3 linked regions of the Homo sapiens genome follow. The protein of the gene in region 1 purifies or fractionates together with the protein of each later gene. This does not show direct contact. Each region holds a gene or a part of one and is shown in the gene's direction. Other genes may lie near its edges.

Region 1 (3,729 bases):
GGGAGGGTGGTGCTGGGCTGACAGGACACAGAGCCCACAGGGCCGGCGCACAGAAGCTCTACCTGCCACCGCACCCTCTTCCTGGTTTGGGGTGAGGCTGATGGCAGCGTTCATGCCCCTCTGCTCAGGCGACGTGGATGTGATTGGTGTGGGGGCAGATGCCTGGCTGTGTGAGGGCCCCGGGCGTGCCTCTCCCCTCTGGTTCTCCCTTCCCCTTGGAATCCTTGGGTGGGCGGGAGGCTCCATCCATCAGCTCCCCCAGTCCCCAGCACGCCCCACAACAGAGCACAGTCATGGGAGCTCAGGAGGAGTGGTTGGCACCAGCAGGCCCAGCTGCGATGGTGCGGTGTGAGGCAGGCCTGGGGCCTCTCAGGTGGCTCCGAAGGGAGGGTCCGGCCTCCGCCCTCAGTGATTACTTAGATTCTGCTCCCTCAAAGTGAACTAGAGGCCAGTCACTGGATGAAGAAACAGGGTCAGAAGGTGACACAGGCGGGCCCATTCATTCGCACCTGTCAGCAGAAGCGTACTCCATGGGCAAAAACACAGACATCGACCCAGCCAGGAGGGTCCCCTTCCAGTATGCTGAGGCCAGGAGGGGCCGTGCCCAGGATCGGGGCCCGGGAGGGAGGGGCCGTGCCCAGGATCGGGGCCGGGGAGGGAGGGGCCGTGCCCAGGATCGGGGCCCTGGAGGGAGGGGCCGTGCCCAGGATCGGGGCCCGGGAGGGAGGGGCCGTGCCCAGGATTGGGGCTGCGGAGGGAGATACCGTGCATTCAGTTTGTCACTGAAGCTGTGTCTGAGCGAAGGCCTGAAGGAGCCGCCATGTGGTCGTCTGGGGAGGACACATCCCCTGCTTCTGGACACTCGGAAGTCCTGGTGGGAGCCGGTGGCTGCGGGGCACAGACAACCACACCAGCTGGACCGCTTTGTGCCACCTTGGGAACTTCATGTTGGGCACTAATTTTAGGATTCTCCCTGTTTCAGCCACGGATGACATCGTGAAGGTTGAAGTCTGGGATGTAGTAGACAAAGGTGAGGCGTCTCTGTTCTGTGTCTGCTTCTCTCTGGGACTGTGTGCTCTGCGCAGAGAGGCTTCCTTTCTTTCCCCCGGCGCCCATGCATCACCCACCATCCTCGTGGACGGTGCCCAGGGTCTTGCTGCTCTGCTCCCCTCCACATCCAGTGGCGACCCCGCAGCGTGGCGCAGCCCCTCCTGTGGCACTGCATGCTTTGCTGCTTTAGCATACTCCCCGTCTCTGAGTGACCGCGTGCACGGTGGCGGCAGGTGCAGCCGGGGGGTGTGCTTTGAGCCCCAAGGCCCAGGGTGCTATTTTGGGAGCCCTCCTCCTGCACTGCCTGGCGGAGTAGCCCAGCACCAGGCGGCCCCCTGCCCATAGCTGAGGACCCAGCTCCTGCGCTCCTGTCCCTGCCAGGGATCCCCAGCCACACAGACCTGCACTCTGGGGACCGTGGGAGGGCAGCACCAGCCCCCGGGGTGTCCTCGACATCGTTGGTCTCCTCCTCAGCCACAAGGTCATGAGTTCCTCTAAGTCCTCAGGGTGGAGCTCATGGCCCTCCCCGGGGCCCATGGTCCGTGTGCATGTGTGGTGTGTGCAGGGCTGGCCACGTGCACGCCCCGGCCTCACAGGCCTGGCTGTGGCCTCGTTACGAGGCTCTGCTGGAAAGGCGGCCGCCGCCTCTGTGTGATGGTGTCTGTTCGGATGGCGCATGCTCCCCTCCCTCCACCTGTGCTTTGTTGGGGTGGGTTTGGCCATGGGGGGTTAGAGGCAGGTGCTCATGCAGTTCCCGCAGGGGTGCTGGGCCCCTGCGGCTCCCACCACATTGCGCTGGACTCTTGTGGCCCGTGCTGACCTGGTGTTCCAGATGCTGTCTCTGCAGAGCTCTGCGTGGTCTCTGGTGTTAGAGAGGTGGCCACCCACCGCCCTATCATTGTCCTCATCCCCACTGTGAGGAGAAGCTATCAGATCTGCCTGTGGCCCCCAGGTGGCTCAGGAAGGGCCGTCCTGACCCCCATCCTGGCCCCTTTCGGAGCTGCAGAGATTTCCTGTGCCTCCAGCTCTGGCTTCCTGGGTCTGTCCTTGGCGTGGAGCGGGCACAGGCTTCCCGTAGACACGGTTGCCCAGAGTGGGGTTCATAACTGGGCACTGTAAAGGGTGTGGTCTCCACGGCTTAGGATGGGCCCCCCCTTCCTGGTGGCCTGCTGTGCCCGGGGCTGGTGTGGAGGCCTGTGGGTGCAGAGGCCGCCTGGCCCTGGGCTTCCTCTGGGGTTACATGTGTACCCTTGCACCCACCTGTTAGCACCCACCGGGAGAGTCTCACTCAGCCTAAACCAGGGCCCCTCAGGAGGAAAAGGTCCCCAGCTTCATGATGGGGCCCAGTGTGCCTTCCATCCCCGCCCTGACTCAGTGCCCACTGTGCGAGGTGTGAGCACTGTCCACAGCAGCCAGGGCGGCCGGTGGGGAGTGCATTGGAGGGGGTTGAGGTCTCTTGGGCACCTGGTGAGTTCTCAAGGGTGAGAGGAAGCCGAGGCCATCAGGCTTAGCTGACGCTGCATGGGGCAGGCTGCCAAGAGGGAGGCTGAATGGAGCAGCCTCAGGTGAGCCGACAATCCTCACCTCCGCCTGGTCAGCCAGGACCCGGCTCCCCTCCAGTCCCGCCTGCTTTCCCCAAAGCAGATCCAGCCAGTCTCAATGGCTCGCCCGGGGGGTGCTGGTTAGGCTGTGAGCATCCTTCCTGGGTGCAGGCCCCCGACAGCCAGCAGTGCTGTGCTGTGTGTGTGTTGGGGACTCTGCTGAGCCCTTTGTGGCCAGACTGGGGAGGCTCCTCCGGGCTGGCTCTGTCCCCTGTACCTTGTGAGGGAGGGGCTGACCCCCTGACTGGGTTACATCGTGGTGAGCAGTTCAGAAACAAGCTGTGGAATGAAGTGGACGTGGCGTTTTAAACACATGAGCCCCATCTGTTCTTAGGGGTTTTGTTTGTTGTCCCAGTCCGTGACTCCAAGACTGGGACCCCCAGAGTTCCCAGGATGGTCTGGAGCCTTTATCCTCAGGTCAGCATTGTGGAGTTAAAGGGAGGGGACCACGGCCCCTCATTCTCAGGAGAGCCATGGTGACCTTGATGGCGGAGGCTCAGGGGGACCTGGACCGTGGACACCACACAGCTGCCCTCCTCCCTCCCGAGGCCATTTCAGGGCTGGAATCCCTGCCCCCCTCTCCTTTCCTCCCGGGCTGGTTGTTGCCTTGAGAGTCCGTGCGCTCATCTCCCCACTTTTACCCCAGGGGGAGGCCCCTCACCTTCCCACCATATCCCTTGTACTTCCTCCCACCCTGGACTTGGGGGAGCTGGGGGGAGGGGGCCCTTCCTTCAGCAGCAAACCCTCCTGGTGTAGGGCTGTAGGCCATCCCACCGCAGCCTGTCCAGGAGCTGCTGAGCCTGTCAGCCCCAACTAGCACCTCCTGTCCAGGCCCGGCCCAGCCCTGCCTCCAGAGCCTACAGAGGGGCCTCGCCCAGGTCCTGCTGCTCCAGAGCTTGTGGGTGCCCACGCTGCAGGCTGTTTGGGGTGGTGGAGTAGAGCACCCGCTGGAGCTGGGGGCTGAGTGGCCATGGGGGGACCATGCTCCTCCTATGGCCCAAGGCCCAGGGGTTCCACCTCGTAATTTTTGTTTGTTTTTAAATAAGGAAAATGCAAAAAGCGAGGCGACGGCTTAAAG
Region 2 (3,729 bases), on another chromosome or scaffold:
TTATAAACAGAATAATTTTAGAGAAGAGATTATTTCAGAGAATCCTATGGTGACTCATTTTGTGAAGTGAAAACTTAAAATTCAAACTGTACCCTTGATTGTTGCATGTTTAGATAAGAAATCCACTGTGTTATGTGCATTTTATAAGATGTCTAATGGCAATTAAGACTAGGTAGTGGTTTTTTAAATCATAGGAATGATAAGTGATTGGCCATTTTATAAATGCCACATTGAAGTTACATGGTACTGATTATGTTATCTTTGTTTTACATAAAAAACAAGTGAAGAATTCTTTTAATCTCCGCAGCTGATGAATTTCAGGCAACTTGGCTGGCAGGTGCTTGTACTCTGGAATTTCCCTTAGGTATTATTAATATATCTTTTAATCCACAAATTATGGTAACTTAAGGCAGCACTTTAGAAACCTTTTTTTTTTTAAACTTAGGAGAGAAAAGTACTCAATTACCTTGATGTGTTGCCTCTAAATCACTACATATAGATACCCATGTGCAAAATGTATATACTGTATGTATATTAAATCTCAGGTCTATGTGCAAAAGTGGGAAGCTATTCATACAGCTTTTACCGATTTTTTATAAGGCAGGGATTGGGTGCATTTCATGCTTAATCTTTTTAGAATCTCTTTCATAATAGAGGTTTAATTTTAAGACTTTTATCTTGGAATTAACCTAGAGATTAGTCTGTTTTCACTTGAAAGAAACCTTATACCTAACCAGTCAGCTTTAAATTTTTCTGCCTCAAAAGTTAAACAACAAAACTTAAAATCTTCTTCCCCCTAAGAAAAATCATAGTGAATGAAATTGTTGGATTAGGATCTATAAGAAACAACATTCTGGGTACAGGTTGTAAATGTGAACAAGTATAGCAGTATGCTTCAACTTATGGACTATTCAGAAATTAGTCTTTTTAACATCACATTGTTAGAACTGTGATTTCTCATCACAGATAATAGTCTTGCTTTCTTAAAGGAACAATGCTGTATATGATTTTCACATATTAATCTAAAGCATTCCTTATTTACATGAAAATGTTTTTCATGTAATATTTGGAGAGGTTTTTTTTTTAAACTTTTTTTATTGGTTGCCTCTTGAAGAGTTCAAGATAGACTCAAGTTGTGTAACCAGACATGAGTAGTAACTCTTAAATGGTTAGTAGAGCATCTTCAACATGAGTTAGCTAGAGTGTTTTTCAACATATGTATGGATTAACATCGAACATGGGCTAGCACTATGCTTGGTGGTTCTTATGGGAAAGACAAGTAAAAGACATGCTTTTTGCCCTTTAGGAGCTTACTGCCTGGTTTTTAAATAAGTACCATGACTAGGTGCAGTGGCTCACGCCTGTAGTCCCAGCACTTTGGGAGGCTGAGGTGGAAGGATCGATTGAGCCCAGTAGTTTGAGACCAGCCTGGGCAACATAGCAAGACCCTGTCTCTGCAAAAAAAACAAAAATAGGCATAGTGGCATGTGCCTGTAACCCCAGCTACTTGGGAGGCTGAGGCAGGAGGATCACTTGAGCACAGGAGTTGAAGGTTGCAGTGAGCTATGATTGTACCACTGCACTCCACTGGGCCACAGAGCAAACCTCTGCCTCTAAAAAATAAATAAATAAATAAAGTATGTACTGTATGTAGAGATGTTTATTATTAAGCCTAAGTACCAGAAATGGGGATGAAGGGAGGAAGCACCATTTAGAATGCTGTGCTATGTTTCAAGCAAGTAACTTCTGAGAGAACATTTGTTGATTGCTAGATTTATCTCTGCAGAGCTTGGCTTTTTAAAACAATGAAATAATTTAGCAGTTTAAATTCTAGGGAGTCTTTTTCTGTCTTATGTGTAAGTTGGAATAACATGTAGCAAAATACTGTATTTTGTATGTGGGAGTCCATTTCTGTAACATGTAAAACTTCAATATTCATAAGAAATTTTAGAAAAATATTTTGATTTTTAAAATAGATTCTAATACTTGTAAAAAGTTTAGGGAAAGAATCTACTTCATCTAGTATTACCTCAGTGTGGAAGATTCCCAAATCTATAGTATATTTCTTTGTGTGTGTGTGTCTGACGGAGTCTTGCTCTGTCTCCCAGGCTGGAGTACAATGGCACGATCTCAGCTCACTGCAACCTCTGCCTCCTGGGTTCAAGCGATTCTCCTGCCTCAGCCTCCTGAGTAGCTGGGATTACAGTTGTGTACCACCACACCTGGCTAATTTTTGTATTTTTAGTAGAGACAGGTTTTCACTATGTTGGCCAGGCTGGTCTCAAACCCCTGACCTCGGGTGATGGCCACGCACCTTGGCCTCCCAAAGTTCTGGGATTACAGGTGTGAGCCACTGTGCCTGACCCTGTAGTATATTTGTATGTCGGTATATGATCTCTTGTCCTTTAGCTGTCTTAGGCTTTTATAATACCTTAATTTTGCATGCTGTATATGATTTTTAAATATTATTTTAAAGCATTCCTTATTTACAGTTTACAAAGAGCTTTTATCTCATTTAATTTGCATACTAACCTTGGGAGATAAATTATTATACTTTTATAGGTGAAAAAGGTCTAGAAAGTGGTTTTTTTTTGTTTGTTTGTTTTTTGAGACAGAGTCTTGCTCTGTTGCCCAGGCTGGAGTGCAATGGCGCGATCTCGGCTCACTGCAGCCTCCGCCTCCCGGGTTTAGGCAGTTATCTGCCTCAGCCTCCCTAGTAGCTGGGATTACAGGTGCCCGCCAGCATGTCTGGCTAATTTTTGTATTTTTAGTAGAGACGGGGTTTCACCATCTTGGCCAGGCTGGTCTTGAACTCCTGACCTTGTGTGATCCACCCACCTTGGCCTCCCTTACAGGTGTGAGCCACCGTGCCTGGCCGTGTTTTTGTTTGTTTGTTTGTTTTTGAGACGGAGTCTTGCTCTATTGCCCAGGCTGGAGTGCAGTGGCACCATGTTGGCTCACTGCAGCCTCTGCCTCCCGTGTTCAAGCTATTCTCCTGCCTCAAGCCTCCCGAGTAGCTGGGACTACAGGCACTCACCACCACACCTGGCTAATTTTTTGTATTTTTAGTAGAGATGGGGTTTCACTGTGTTAGCCAGGATGGTTGTGATCGCCTGACCTTGTTATTCGCCTGCCTCGGCCTTCCAAAGTGCTGGCATTACAGACGTGAGCCACCGCACCTGGCCAAGAGTGTGTTATTTTTTTAAAAGGTTAAGTCCAGGTTTTTTCTTTTTTTGTATGGTTGGGAGTGTTTGTATCTATATTATTTTTATTTTATTTTATTTTGTTTTTTTGAGACAGAGTTTCTGTCGCCCAGGCTGGAGTACAGTGGCACAGTCTTGGCTCACTGCAACTTCTGCCTCCTGGATTCAAGCGATTCTTGTGCCTCAGCCTCCCGAGTAGCTGAGATGACAGGTGTGCACCACCGCACCCAGCTAATTTTTGTATTTTTAATAGAGAAGAGGTTTTGCCATATTGGCCAAGCTGGTCTTGAACTGCTGTCCTCAAGTGATCCATCCACCTCAGCCTCCCAAAGTGCTGGGATTAGAGGTGTGAGTCACCATGCCCAGCATCATATTATTTTTAAATAAAACACCATAGAAAGGAAAGAAGAATAGAAAAATAAATTATCTTTAGCCCATTTGTATGCAGCTGATGTTAACATGTTAATGTACTTGTTCTTAGTCTTTTCCTATGCTTAGTTTTTTAATAGTTAAAATCATACTGCAG
Region 3 (2,839 bases), on another chromosome or scaffold:
ATGAAACCGTTAAGTAGAGATTTTTCTAATAGTATAAAAATCAGTGTAGGCCCAGCACAGTGGTTCACACCTGTAATCCCAGCACCTTGGGAGGCTAAAGGCAGGAGGATTGCTTGAGCTCAGGAGTTTGAGACCAACCTGGGCAACATAGTGAGAACTCATCTCTATTAAAAATCAGAAAAATTGGCCAGGTGTGGTGGCTCATGCCTGTAGTCCCAGTTACTCAGGAGGCTGAGGCAGGAGGATCCCTTGAGATTGAGGCTTCAGTGAGCTAATGATCGCGCCACTGCACTCCAGCCTGGGTGACAGAGTGAGACCCTGTCTCAAAAACAACAAAAATCTCAGTGTGACAAATTCCTAACAGCTCAAATACTACTTGTCTTATTTGTTAACTATTTTGAAATAATTTTAAACTTACAGAAAAGTAGAATAGTTCAAAAGATCCTGTATATCCTTCCCCTAGATTCTTCTATTGTTAACATCTTGCCATATTTTCCATACCACTCTCTAGCTATGTATTCACATTATTTTTTGAACTGTTTGTTACTAAGTTGCAATTGTGATGTCCCATTAGTACTAAATACTTAAGTGTATACTTTTTAAAAACAAGGACACTCCTACATAACCACAGTACTTAAAATCAGGAAACCAGCATTGATAAAATTCTACCATTTGATCCACGAACCCCATTCAAATGTTGCCATTTACTCCAAAAATATCCTTACAATAACCCTTTCCTTTTTTGGTCCACAGTCCAATCAGGATGAAGCACGCATTTAGTTACATTTTCCCTTTAGTCTTCCTCAATCTGGAGCGGTTCCTTGGTTTTTCCTTTTTTGTGACCTTGACATTTTTGAAGAATGCAGGCCAGGTACTTTGTAGAATGATGTGCACTTTGGGTTTGTCTGATATTTCCTCAAGATTAGATTCAGGTTGTGAATTTTTGGCAGGAATACCAGAGAGGTGATGCTGTCTTCTTCTCTGCATTGTATCAGGAGGCACATCATGTCAATTTTTTCCATTACTGGTGATGTTAATTTTTAACAGTTGGTTACGATGTTTTCAAGATTTCTCCACTGTTAGTATTTTCTCCACTTGTATTTGTTTTTTGGTATAAACTTAAAAAGTACAGCATGATGTTTTGGTATATGTATCCATAGTGAAATGATTATTACAGGTATTAATTAATGAGGAATTACGTATTTTGTGGGTAGCTATTTTGAGACTCTCAATATCCTATTTCTCAAAATTTTACCCTTTACTTTTAGCATCCATTGATGATCCTTGTCTGGATCAGTTATTGCCAAATGGTAGTTTTCTTTTCTTTTCTTTTCTTTTGAGACAGTGTCTTGCTCTGTTGCCCAGGCTACAGTGCAGTGATGAGATCATAGCCCACTGCAGCCTCAAACTCCTGGGCTCATGCCATTTTCCCCTCAGCTTTTGGAGTTAGCTGGGACTACAGGCATGCATCACCACACCCAGATTATTTTTAAAGTTTTTGTAGAAACGGGGTCTCTTCTTCCCCATTTATTCAATATTTATATCAGTATAGAACATGGGTCCCTGTTTTATCATCTGTAAGTTATGATTTATTTTGATGCCCCCATTGTCCAAGATTTGACTAGCGAGAGCACTTTCCAGCTAGCTCCTGTGTCCTTTGGACATACCCCATGGTTCATTGAGCACTTCCTTGCTTTCTGGCACCACAAGATGTTCCAGGCTCGTCTTCTATTTTCCCTACCCCGCTCCTGACATCAGCCATTTCTCCAAAGAGTCCTGGTTCATATTAGTGGAGAATGGTATTTAAAACCAAGATCCGGATGCTAAAGGCTGTGCTCATTGCCCCTGTGCTAGCATTGCCACTGTGCGTTCTCCCAGTGGACAAATTTGGAAATATATGCGTCTATGCTTGTTACCTCATCCATCCATATATATATTAAAAACAAGTACACACTGATACCTATTTCACATCTACTCCACAGAGTTTATTCTAGTCTTCTCCCTTTCCACAATTGTATCTTCTCCACCCTATATTTAAAAACTGGACTTCCAGAGTCTCCAATACATTGGCTTATTTGTTCATTTTCCCTGTGATTAACCAACCTCCTGACCACGTGGCTGGCTCCTTTGCTCCATCTCTGCCCCTCACCCCCTACCGTACATCACTGCTGTGAGGACCAAGTTTCCTCCCTTTCCTCGATCCATGACAGCACCTGCCAGTTGAACCCCACAGTGGGAATTTTAAAGAAGGCACTTTTGGCTCAGATGGCAGTGCCAAAGCAGGCATTCCAATTCACATGGTGCTCTAGCAATTGTGAAATAAACAGATTCTGAAGGTCTGTCCTGGACTGTGTATAGTCTTTGGGTTTTTGTCTTGCTTATTTTGTTAAAATGTTTTCCTGATGACTTTCTATTCTATAGTAAAGCCTTATACATAATGTTCAAGCAGGCGTCAGACAAAATAATGATCATTGTGGAGAGGAGTTAGGAAGGAAAAGATGAAAAGGAAGAAGGCGTAAACCCAATATTGAGAGGAGAAATGGGTACGGCAGGAGTAGCCGTCTGAATCCGAAATGCTGTCTGAGCCAGGACACATTCACAGTTAGAGATCTTAAGTAATGTGTTAATATTATTTTATAACTGTCCTTGCAAAAACAAAACAAAACTGCCTGTCAGTTCATTTGGATCATCCACCCACTTAAGTTTTAGGAGTGTCAGGACCAAGTTAGCTGTATTGAGTGCTGAGGTGTTCTTTTATTAAACAGTCAGCTATTCAATCTTAATAATTTGTAGTGGGAGGAATAATATGCCCCTGGACAAATAATTCCTTGGAAAGCTC

Evidence for each region.
Region 2: the proteins of RABL6 (region 1) and EML4 fractionate together in Homo sapiens (co-fractionation; one large-scale study listed by BioGRID). This does not show direct contact.
Region 3: the proteins of RABL6 (region 1) and CPSF2 fractionate together in Homo sapiens (co-fractionation; one large-scale study listed by BioGRID). This does not show direct contact.

What each region holds. Positions count from the first base shown.
Region 1 is NC_000009.12:136,824,797-136,828,525, forward strand, and holds part of RABL6 (rab-like protein 6), read left to right. Parts: intron 1-982; coding exon 983-1,030; intron 1,031-3,697; coding exon 3,698-3,729. UniProt on the Homo sapiens protein: May enhance cellular proliferation. May reduce growth inhibitory activity of CDKN2A.
Region 2 is NC_000002.12:42,172,228-42,175,956, forward strand, and holds part of EML4 (echinoderm microtubule-associated protein-like 4), read left to right. Parts: intron 1-3,729. UniProt on the Homo sapiens protein: Essential for the formation and stability of microtubules (MTs). Required for the organization of the mitotic spindle and for the proper attachment of kinetochores to MTs. Promotes the recruitment of NUDC to the mitotic spindle for mitotic progression.
Region 3 is NC_000014.9:92,169,807-92,172,645, forward strand, and holds the end of CPSF2 (cleavage and polyadenylation specificity factor subunit 2), read left to right. Parts: 3' UTR 1-2,339; downstream 2,340-2,839. UniProt on the Homo sapiens protein: Component of the cleavage and polyadenylation specificity factor (CPSF) complex that play a key role in pre-mRNA 3'-end formation, recognizing the AAUAAA signal sequence and interacting with poly(A) polymerase and other factors to bring about cleavage and poly(A) addition.